Regions from separate parts of the Homo sapiens genome. Here region 2 is reported to be linked to region 1. Evidence: microRNA targets listed by miRTarBase, many of them from high-throughput screens and not tested one by one. Region 1 holds a microRNA gene; the other region holds the end of a gene's coding sequence.

The links. The annotated mature microRNA hsa-miR-223-5p reads CGUGUAUUUGACAAGCUGAGUU and lies in region 1 at 3,377-3,398, shown strand. An mRNA with a match to its seed (bases 2 to 7 or 8) in the 3' UTR can be bound and repressed. Matches are read on the target gene's strand: a 7mer-m8 pairs with bases 2 to 8, a 7mer-A1 pairs with bases 2 to 7 and ends in A, and an 8mer does both.
Region 2: miRTarBase lists KCNQ3 as a target of hsa-miR-223-5p. Seed matches in the 3' UTR shown: 7mer-A1 at 871-877 and 7mer-A1 at 1,374-1,380.

What each region holds. Positions count from the first base shown.
Region 1 is chrX:66,015,519-66,020,595 of GRCh38, forward strand. MIR223 (microRNA 223) reads left to right here and starts at 3,352; the gene lies at 3,352-3,461. MIR223HG (MIR223 host gene) reads left to right here. Exons shown (of 3, transcript NR_170299.1): 1 at 1-33; 2 at 1,547-1,671; 3 at 3,306-4,908.
Region 2 is chr8:132,124,805-132,129,881 of GRCh38, reverse strand. It overlaps KCNQ3 (potassium voltage-gated channel subfamily Q member 3), which reads left to right. Exons shown (of 15, transcript NM_004519.4): 15 at 1-5,077. The coding sequence ends at 620. Among named protein-coding and RNA genes, the nearest start is that of HHLA1, 16 kb to the right of the region's middle. RefSeq lists enhancers at 48-548, 549-1,049.

The DNA.
Region 1 (5,077 bases):
CCCTCCATGACCAAGGCACCACTCCACTGACAGGTATGGTATCCATTTGCCCTCTCTTCTTGGATTCTCAAGCTGGGGCAGAGTCCATGGCAGCCAAGGGTGGCTTGGATCTGCCCATCCCATTCTCTTCAGACCCTCCTCAGGGATTAAGGTCAAAGGTGGGAGGAAGAAGGCTTCCATTGGCCTTTTATCCTAGAGGTTCTAATGGAGGGGAAAAGGGGATAGGATATTTTCTATCCAATCAGGATGTTTAGGAGATAGTCACATGGAAGTGGAATGGCCTTTGGACCCAGGAGTCAGGAAACCTGAGTAGCAGTCCTGGTTTTACCATTTACCCAATGTGTATCTTTGGGTAAGTCCTTTCTCCAATCTAGGACACAGTTTTTTCACCCCTTTTGCAAAATAAAAAAGTAAAAAGAGGAAAAGAATGATTAGATAGATGCTGTCTAGAGACCCATGGTTATTAGATTCCTAATTTTCATGATTGTCAGCCCTCTGTCAAGAAAGAAGATGAGAGTAATCTTTGCATATGTAACTGTGGGTGGGGCTGAACACATTCAAGAGGAGAGTGCTGGTGGTAATCCATATAGCACTCTCTGAGAGGCATGACTCAAAGATGAAAGCCTCTTTTCTAGTCCAATCTTTGACTCCTAGAGATTCAAAATTGAAAGACTCTTAGAGACTAGGTACATATGGAAGAAACTGAGGTCCAGAAAGAGGAAGAAAGGGACTTGCCCAAAGTCATACAGAGAATCTGTAGCACAGCTGGGTCTGGGCTCCCAGGTCAGTCCTCTTTTTGCTCTATCCTAGGAGGACTGAGACATCAAGCAGCAGGACCTGTCCTGTAACTGACCCAGGACAGGTCCTGCTCATACTAGAGGCAGTCTGGGATTTTTAGGCATGGTCCTGAGGACTTCTTCTTTTCTTCTATTTTTCTTTCAGGTACTTGGCTCACTCTGAGTGTTCAGAGATTCCTAGACACCTACTTACCCCTAATTCTTCTGGTCTATTCCCTCCAATTCCCTCCATAAAAACTGACCCATCCTTTGCATCAACAATAGTGGCTTGATGACGCTCTTCAGTAGAGGATTTTGCATTTCATATGGGGAAAAATGATGTTATTCTAAGTAATATAACAGACCAAGAGAAGAGCTTTCAAATTCCCTTAATATCATCCCATATAGATATTTATGTCTTCTTTCTATGGGTCTGGTGAACATTTCTCAACTGAATGTGATTTTCTTACATACACTCCATTGGAGAGGCATACCAGTCTAGTTTCAGCTCAACCACTAACTCCTTCCATTAATACTGAAGCAATGTTGTCTATAAGGCTCCACAAATTTCAAAGTACTAATAATTTTTAGCCCCTTTCATGCCTCCTTTCCAGCCTTTCTGGAGGTGAATAAAGTCAGAAAGTGCATTCAAAAGGCTGTGAACACCTCCAGCTTATCTAGGTCTTCTTACTGGAGCTGACAGCCAATGAGTGTAATGATACAAAAAAGGTAACAATCCATTTCTTTTTCTCCTGCCATCCCCAACTCAGACTCTGTTAATCAGCTTGCTTGGCTGGCCTCCAACCATAGGTCCAGGGGCTGAGACAAGGTCCTTTTGAGCTCCTATGTGGGAGGCTCTGGAAAGCTTAGCAACACTTTCCAACAACTTTGCCAGGTAAGTAGGTAAGTCTCCTTGTTCTCATTTCCAGAGAAGACAACTGAAACCCAAAGAAAGACTTGCCCAAGCCATGATTGGCTAGTTGATGGCCAAGACAGCATTAGAACACAAGTTTGTCGATTCTGTCATGCCATATTTGGTGACCATGACTGCTGCTTTTGCTGCTGGGTGGATTAGGCTGAATTGGGTAGGTAGAAAAGGAAGTGAGGGAGTGAAAGAGCTTTAGTTTTGAGATGACTGCCAGAACTTAAATTGAAGGAGTATGTTACCTTCTTAACATTCAATTAAAAGAATAGAGCAAGAAAAGACACTGATTGTTTTCTTGCTGAAAGACAAGGCTGAATCCCTCTGTCTTACCTGGGCTGGGACAGGGCTTTCCGGCCTCATGGGGGCAGTTTACCATTTCTGGTAACCTTGTGATGTTTGCCACTTTTCATGACAATATTTAATGTAGACCAGCTACCTGCTCACAGATCAACTGCCACAGCTGGTAAGGGCAGTAATTTGACACCAGCAACCTGGGATTTTTAGCAACAGGATCTGATTGTTGCCAAGGGAATTCTCCCAGAAGTTTCAGACCTGACCCTGCTCCTGGCAGCTTCCTTATTGCCCTGGTGGCTTGTGGGTTCAGTGATCCCAAATGTTGCATTACAAAGCTATTGCCTGTTTTTGCCCTCTTTGTTGATGTGTCTTCCCTTTCCCAGAGGGATATACAGAGAAGGGAGGCAAAATAACCAATGAGGAAAGCTGTATAAGGCATACTGCTGAACTGTAAAAAATTTATTGTATAAACTTTACAAGTCTCCTCCCCAACAGGAGCCTTTGTTATCTCATTTATAACCTAAGTGAGTGAGACTAGATGATCTTTAAGGGCACTTTAATAGCTGCCATTCTTGAGTCCCTATGGGACAAGAGGATCATGTTAGGCAAGGCTGAGACCACAAGAAATCAATGTCACACCTGTCCAGATCCTGCTAAATCAATTGCCAATAGCTCTTTCTTTCATTTTGGTCACACAACCACTACTTTTTGAGCATTTGTTATGTATTGAATACTGAACCAAAGGCTTTACATGCATTATCTCCTGTCATTCTCACAATAACCTTATGAGGTAGGTATTATACTTACATACATTTTGTGGGTGTAGAAAACTTGAGCTCAGAGAGGTGAAATGATGTATCCAAGGTTGCCTAACTAGCTAATGGAAGAACTAGGATTTAAGCTCATGTTTAACCTCAAAGCCTATGTGCATAACCACAACACTGAAAACACAGCTTGGGAGAATTGAGAAGAGGGAGCAAGGATGCTGACTCTAGGGTCTGGTACTTTCCTCAAGTCAGGGAGGCAGGATGATGACCAAATTTTCCCCTCTCTGCTGCATAGAGGAACCCACTGAAGCTTGGGACCCCTAGAAATGCCATAGCTACAGGACTCAGGCCTGATGAGCTTCCAGCTGAGCACTGGGTGTCACTCGGGCTTTACCTGCTTATCTTCAGGATCTCTCTTCTGGTTAGGAACCCTATGCCTATTTTGCTCACTTCCCTATTCTGGTGCTTTGGTTGGTCCTTTGAGCAAGATCCCCGGGGCTAAGGGTGTGACTTCATCATTCCTTTCTCTCTCTTTCCCTCTAGGGTCACATCTCCCAGGAAGATCTCACTTCCCCACAGAAGCTCTTGGCCTGGCCTCCTGCAGTGCCACGCTCCGTGTATTTGACAAGCTGAGTTGGACACTCCATGTGGTAGAGTGTCAGTTTGTCAAATACCCCAAGTGCGGCACATGCTTACCAGCTCTAGGCCAGGGCAGATGGGATATGACGAATGGACTGCCAGCTGGATACAAGGATGCTCACCAAGCACCAAGTTCTCACAAGTTATTTTATGTGACTTTGCAGGAACTGAGGCATTATATCTGAGGACACCAGGGGAAAAGTGTGGCATCTCAGGGAAATACAGCCCTGGGCTGTGTCTACACACACCATGAGAGTGCTGATGGGGGCGCAATAGTCTTGAAAATGTATAAAGTGTCCAGGAATGGAAGTGCTCTTTGATTCATTATTATTTTCTTCCTTCATATTCCCCTCCCAGAGTCTCCTATCTAGGACATCAGCATTCTCACACAAGCCTAATGGCTTATCTGAGTAAGCAGGGCTTAGAAATTCACTTTCTTGATACTCAGTCTTGCCTTCTAAACACTCCTTGATCTTGCCTACCTCTCCCCTTTTCCACATGTCTTTTCCTGTAGGAACACTTTCTCCATTTATTCCTGCCTATCCAATTCTTCCCTATATTTCCTGGACCAGCTAAAGTCCAGTGTTTCCAGAGACTTTTGAAAGTCAACTTACACTTTTTCCTTCTTCATTCACAAAGCTCTTCTTCCCTGGGCCCTGGTATGTATGCCTTTCTCTCCTACTGTCTAATAGCACCTCGTAAATTGTCAATGAACTTTTCTAAGGGGTATTCTTGAATTCCCAACTAGATTGTGAGCTTCTGGAAGACAAGGCTATGTCTTTGATTGTTGTCTCCCCTACCACAGCCCAGTACTTTAGTTACAGAAAATAATAAATATTTACTGATTGATTGACTTTCCTCTTGTCCACTAGCTTTAGGTTTGGGGGCCAAATTCTACCCTGGATTTTGAAAAATTCAAACTGTGAACACCACAATGTTATAGAGCATATGAGGTAGTAGCCAGCATGAAGGATGTTTTCTTCCTGAGAAACAGTGTCAAGGGCTGGAGGAAGAGGGCAAAATAGCAGACTCAGAGGGCAAATAAATTTTGGTATTACTTGGTCACACAAGGTTATACAGGTGTTTTCTTGTAGGATTTTTCAGAGCCTTTAATAGTCTAATGTTGCATTGAGAATCTCAAAGAGGAAACCATAGAATGAGGCATTTGCCATACCTATCTGATCATGAATTTTCTTTTCCCCCACAGCCTTCTCCTGTGTCAATGTCCAATGAAGCACGATTTGGGAAACTGTCCTAGAGAAACTTTATACCTTCCCGCTCTTCTGGAGATCTTTTCCTCTTTTCATTCATCTACTTTCCCCAACCAGCCATCTGCCTAAGAAAGGTCACATGTTATCATCTCATTTTTGTTTAGCCTCTGCAGCTGTGGACTATCTTTATTACATAGGAATTCTTTACTAGCTTGTCCTGTATTTAAAAATATTCTAAGTTTTGAGGCAAAGAAGATCCAGATGCTGCAATAAATATATGCACTGAGGAGTTCACAGGCCTGACTTTTGGTCTCCTTTCTACCACTAACTGTGTTTTTGTTCCTCTCTGAGCTTCATTTTCTCATCTCCAATACGGAAGTATTAGAATCAGTGATCTCTAGGCTCTTTAAGATTAATGACTTTGAGATATCCCTGGGAGTCCTTAGCTCTTATGGAGCAGCGTCC
Region 2 (5,077 bases), not on the chromosome of region 1:
CTGAAGCAGAGAAGAAGGAGGACAACAGGTATTCCGATTTGAAAACCATCATCTGCAACTATTCTGAGACAGGCCCCCCGGAACCACCCTACAGCTTCCACCAGGTGACCATTGACAAAGTCAGCCCCTATGGGTTTTTTGCACATGACCCTGTGAACCTGCCCCGAGGGGGACCCAGTTCTGGAAAGGTTCAGGCAACTCCTCCTTCCTCAGCAACAACGTATGTGGAGAGGCCCACGGTCCTGCCTATCTTGACTCTTCTCGACTCCCGAGTGAGCTGCCACTCCCAGGCTGACCTGCAGGGCCCCTACTCGGACCGAATCTCCCCCCGGCAGAGACGTAGCATCACGCGAGACAGTGACACACCTCTGTCCCTGATGTCGGTCAACCACGAGGAGCTGGAGAGGTCTCCAAGTGGCTTCAGCATCTCCCAGGACAGAGATGATTATGTGTTCGGCCCCAATGGGGGGTCGAGCTGGATGAGGGAGAAGCGGTACCTCGCCGAGGGTGAGACGGACACAGACACGGACCCCTTCACGCCCAGCGGCTCCATGCCTCTGTCGTCCACAGGGGATGGGATTTCTGATTCAGTATGGACCCCTTCCAATAAGCCCATTTAAAAGAGGTCACTGGCTGACCCCTCCTTGTAATGTAGACAGACTTTGTATAGTTCACTTACTCTTACACCCGACGCTTACCAGCGGGGACACCAATGGCTGCATCAAATGCATGCGTGTGCGTGGTGGCCCCACCCAGGCAGGGGCTTCCCACAGCCTCTTCCTCCCCATGTCACCACAACAAAGTGCTTCCTTTTCAGCATGGTTTGCATGACTTTACACTATATAAATGGTTCCGCTAATCTCTTCTAGGATACACATTTATCTGCTGTTCTTACTTTTAATCACGATTGGACCAGTACAGGGAGAAATTACTGATGAGCCATGCTATTTGTCTGTTTGGTTGGCTGGTTTGGGTTTTGGTTTGGTAAGCAGAGAAAGTAGTTTAAGTTATTTCTAGGATCACTGCCCTCTTGTGTAAAACGCTCCAGCAATTAACTGTTTTTGAAAGCAAGGAAATAATTTTCTCAACAAAACCACATTGTGTATCAGTGGGGCTGCCTACTGAGCTAACATTAGGAAAGGAATGAGATAGTCATTGTGTCTCTAAAACAAAGAATTTAAACAAATATTTAAGGCAAAACCTTTTAAAAGCTCTCCAAAAGACCTCACTTGGCCTGATGTTACTTAGTATCATGCCTCAGTTTCCTTATCTGTAAAAAGTGGTGGTAATCCCAAGTGTAGCATTTCTGATGAGTTATGAATTGGCAGGGAGAAAACACACACACACACACACACACACACACACACACACACATACACAAAGTTAAAATAGTTTCCAATTTATGTAGCCAAGGACAATGGAATTTATCAGAAGTGAAGTGCCCCTCTGGGCAGGAGCTGAGTTCAGTGCCTTTAAAATGAATTTCCAACTCTCATTTCTTCCCATGATACTGAAGTACAAAATATCCATCTAAAATAGAAATTAAAGTCAAGAAGGCACACAGAAATTTTCTAGTCCAAGGACTTCCTTTTATAAATGAAGAATCTTAGGCTCAGGTAAAGTGACATACCCAGAGTCACTCAGTTGTCCCATAGAGAACCAGGACTCAAAAGTCAGGTCTGCCCACTCTCCCTGACCTTGTTTCCCCTCACCACACCATTCTTCCATTTATATAATGCATCCTAGAGATTGTGTCAAGATATATGACTTTGTGTCGCGTGGAAAGCACCCAGTTTATCCAGCAGGAGGGGGATTTCCACTTTTATTGCAAAACATGCTTGCTTGATGCAATGCATTTCAGATCTAGAAAAAAATAATGCAAGCAAGCTACATTTACAGATGTGTAAACAGGCAAAATTTCCAGAACCGTCCAATTTTACTTTTCCAAATTTATGGAACCAACCCAGATTTTTTAAATGAAAATACTAAAACCATATGTAACCGTAAGACAAGCTAAAATGTAAGCAGACAGCCTGGGAAGCACTGCCCTACTGTACAGGTGTGATATTAAGCACAAGCCATCCTCTGGCCTCTTATGAGATGTTGTTATTCTCTGAAAAACTTTGATGGAAAAGGTTTCTGTTAGGCTTAGACTGAATTAGCTAAATGACCATGCCACAGTATTATTGTATCACTCTTCTCACACACCTAGGCACTGGTTGTGGATAGTTGCCATGGTGACAATCAAGATAATCCAGATGACCTAAACAAATGTCTGTATGCAGCTGACACTGCTATTCTCCCTCACAGTCTTGTCAAGAGCCACAGTAGCTATGGCAGACATTTGGTTGATGGTTTCATCATTTCCTAATACGAGAGTCTGGCACTATGTTGGAGAGAGGAATCACTTCCTCAGAGATAGGTTCCTTTCAACTCACATGTCAACAGTTACTGTACAAAAAGCTCAGAATACAGTAATGATTAGAGCTTGACCCCTGACTTTAGGAACTTAGAACCAAAGCCCAAAGTCCCAGGCCAAGGGCAGACATTGTGAGCAGCAGAAGGGTGTTTTTTATGGAGAGCCCCATAAATGGATGGGTGTAGACCTTGAAGTCTGAGATGGGAAATATACCAGAATGCTCAATGCATCAGACATGAAGCCCCACGGGCTTCCATTTGACATGCTGGCAATCTGAAGGACAAAGGGCATGGGTTATTTGGGCCTTTTCCCCACTCCTTCAATATGGCTGAAAGTGCCAGTGGGGATTACAACCTAAGAAACCCTATGCCCCTTCCTGAGGGCTTGATTATTGAATCCTGATCTTCCTGGAATCTTTCACTTGAGATGATCACCTGCCTAACATCCAACATGTTACTATGCTCTTCTTTATGTACATGAGTTACTGGAAACCAACAATAAAGGAGAGTGAGTCATACTCTCCACATATGCGCCAATTAATTTTTTAACTTACTTATTAGTATTCTTGAAGAACTTACTATCTTAAGTATTTTACCAATAGATGATGCATTTTCCAGCAACTCAATGGAGTTCTACCTTAAAGTATTTACCATTGATCCAAAATTGGAGGAACTACCTTAGATTCTTTTAATAACCTAGAAAGGATTGGAGCTTGTATTATTTCCTAAACCATAGGCAGGCAGTCTAGCTTCCCTGCTGGATCATAAGACCAGGACAGCAGAGATTGGGTTTGTATTGATCAGTAGTAGGGAAGTATTGATTGTCTAACATCTAGTAAGTTGTCTTTATCAGTATAGACATAGACAAAATACATGTTTTATGAATGAATAAATAATAAGAACCTTAAGAGCTGTTTTTTTCCCATTTAAGAAAACAAAAAGGAAAAGAGAAAAATGATCTTCTGGAATAACTCTGCTTTGATATTCTCCTTTTGTTCCCCAAAAAATATATTCCAGAAAGGCAAACCAAACCTGCTCAAGTTGCCTATGCACAGACAATCTCAACAATATGGCTCACAGTGAGCAAGCAGAAATTCAGGGTCTGGAATTGAATGTGAGTTATGGGAAGAAACAGTGTGTGCTTTCACAAAGATCCTTTTGTCAGACAAGGGAACAGCATGATAATCCAATGGAACTGGTTAACATGACCCAAGATGACATGACCACAGATATACTAGTCGTTCTGAAACTTGCCCAAGAAATTGCAATCGTTTCAGCAGAACTCCATGAAATATTGACAAATTAATTCCATCATCAAACTAGGAGTGATATTATCAGGTAAAACTATGATCTCATGTATGTATTTGGTCTTTCTGGGTCACAATGTGACATGAAAAATTTTAAAGGTCATATTTTAGCAAGATCAAAATGAATTAGATAAATCAACTTCACAAATGTTAAGCGAAACATGATCCTATTGAGCTGAGAAAGAAGTACTTGAGATCGTTTGAGTTTTGACTATCAAATGTCAGCACAAAAGCAAATATCAAAAGCTTAAGAAAAAAATTATTTCAGGAAAAGAAAAACACATCAAATTGAGAAAGTGTTGTTGAATAACTTTGTTTTTAGAACTGGAAATTTAGGCTTATTAGACATGACATTGATATTACAAAGCCCTAGTTTTCATGAAAACATAACTAGATAACCCCAAGGTGTATAGGTTAAAATGAACTAATTAATCAACAATTATGCATCCTGTGTCTATTTTGTGCAAGGTACTTCCTAGACACTGTAGTTTGAAAGAATAATTTCCTGTAGAAAAACCTAATCTAATAGGACCTACTCATAATTTGGCAAAATCATCCTCATAATTCCATGCTACTGAAATGGGGGTGTAATAAAGAAAAAATCATTTGTTTATTCATTTAACAGGGTTTATTAAGCACCAATATATGCCCAGAACTTTGCAGTGCACTGGAAGTTCAGAGATAAGAAAACCACAGTTTCTGCCATCAAAATGCTAGGAATCTAGAGGTCTCAAACATCAGAGGTCCCTTCAAACTATGTCTACCAGGAAAATAAAATACCTGATTTCATCCCTGCAAACAACTCTATACAGACAGAAATGCTTCCTAGCTTGGAAACTATAGAAAATTGAACATGAAAATGAGAGCAAAGGTTCTACATCAAAATGGCAATGATCCAATCAGCCCAGTCAAGGCTGAGTGGGTTGAATGGGGACTTCGAGTTTGGATTCAATGCTTTGAACTTCATAGCTCCAGAGAAGCTGTGCAAAAAGGGGGGATTCTAGGGAATCTGAGGAAGATTGTTGGAGAAACCAGCTTTCTTCTTGTCTCCTAATCCCTGCTAAGATTGATACCAGTCAAGGAGCTGAGTTACTTTCATTTCATTATGTTGACCAAGAGAAGCTTATGATACAGACTATGACACAGCACCTATTTCAAGAGAAAGATGTTACTCTACTTATGGGAACCTGCAGATCAAATTCTCCTGGGGCAAGAGAAGAAATTTGTTCAGCAGCCTAAGAAGTCAACTGTACTTTGGACAGTGCTGCCAAACACACCCCAGGATTCTCCCACCCCTGTGCTTTCCCAGAAGATGCCACATAGCTGGTATTTGGTTTTCATGAATAACCAAA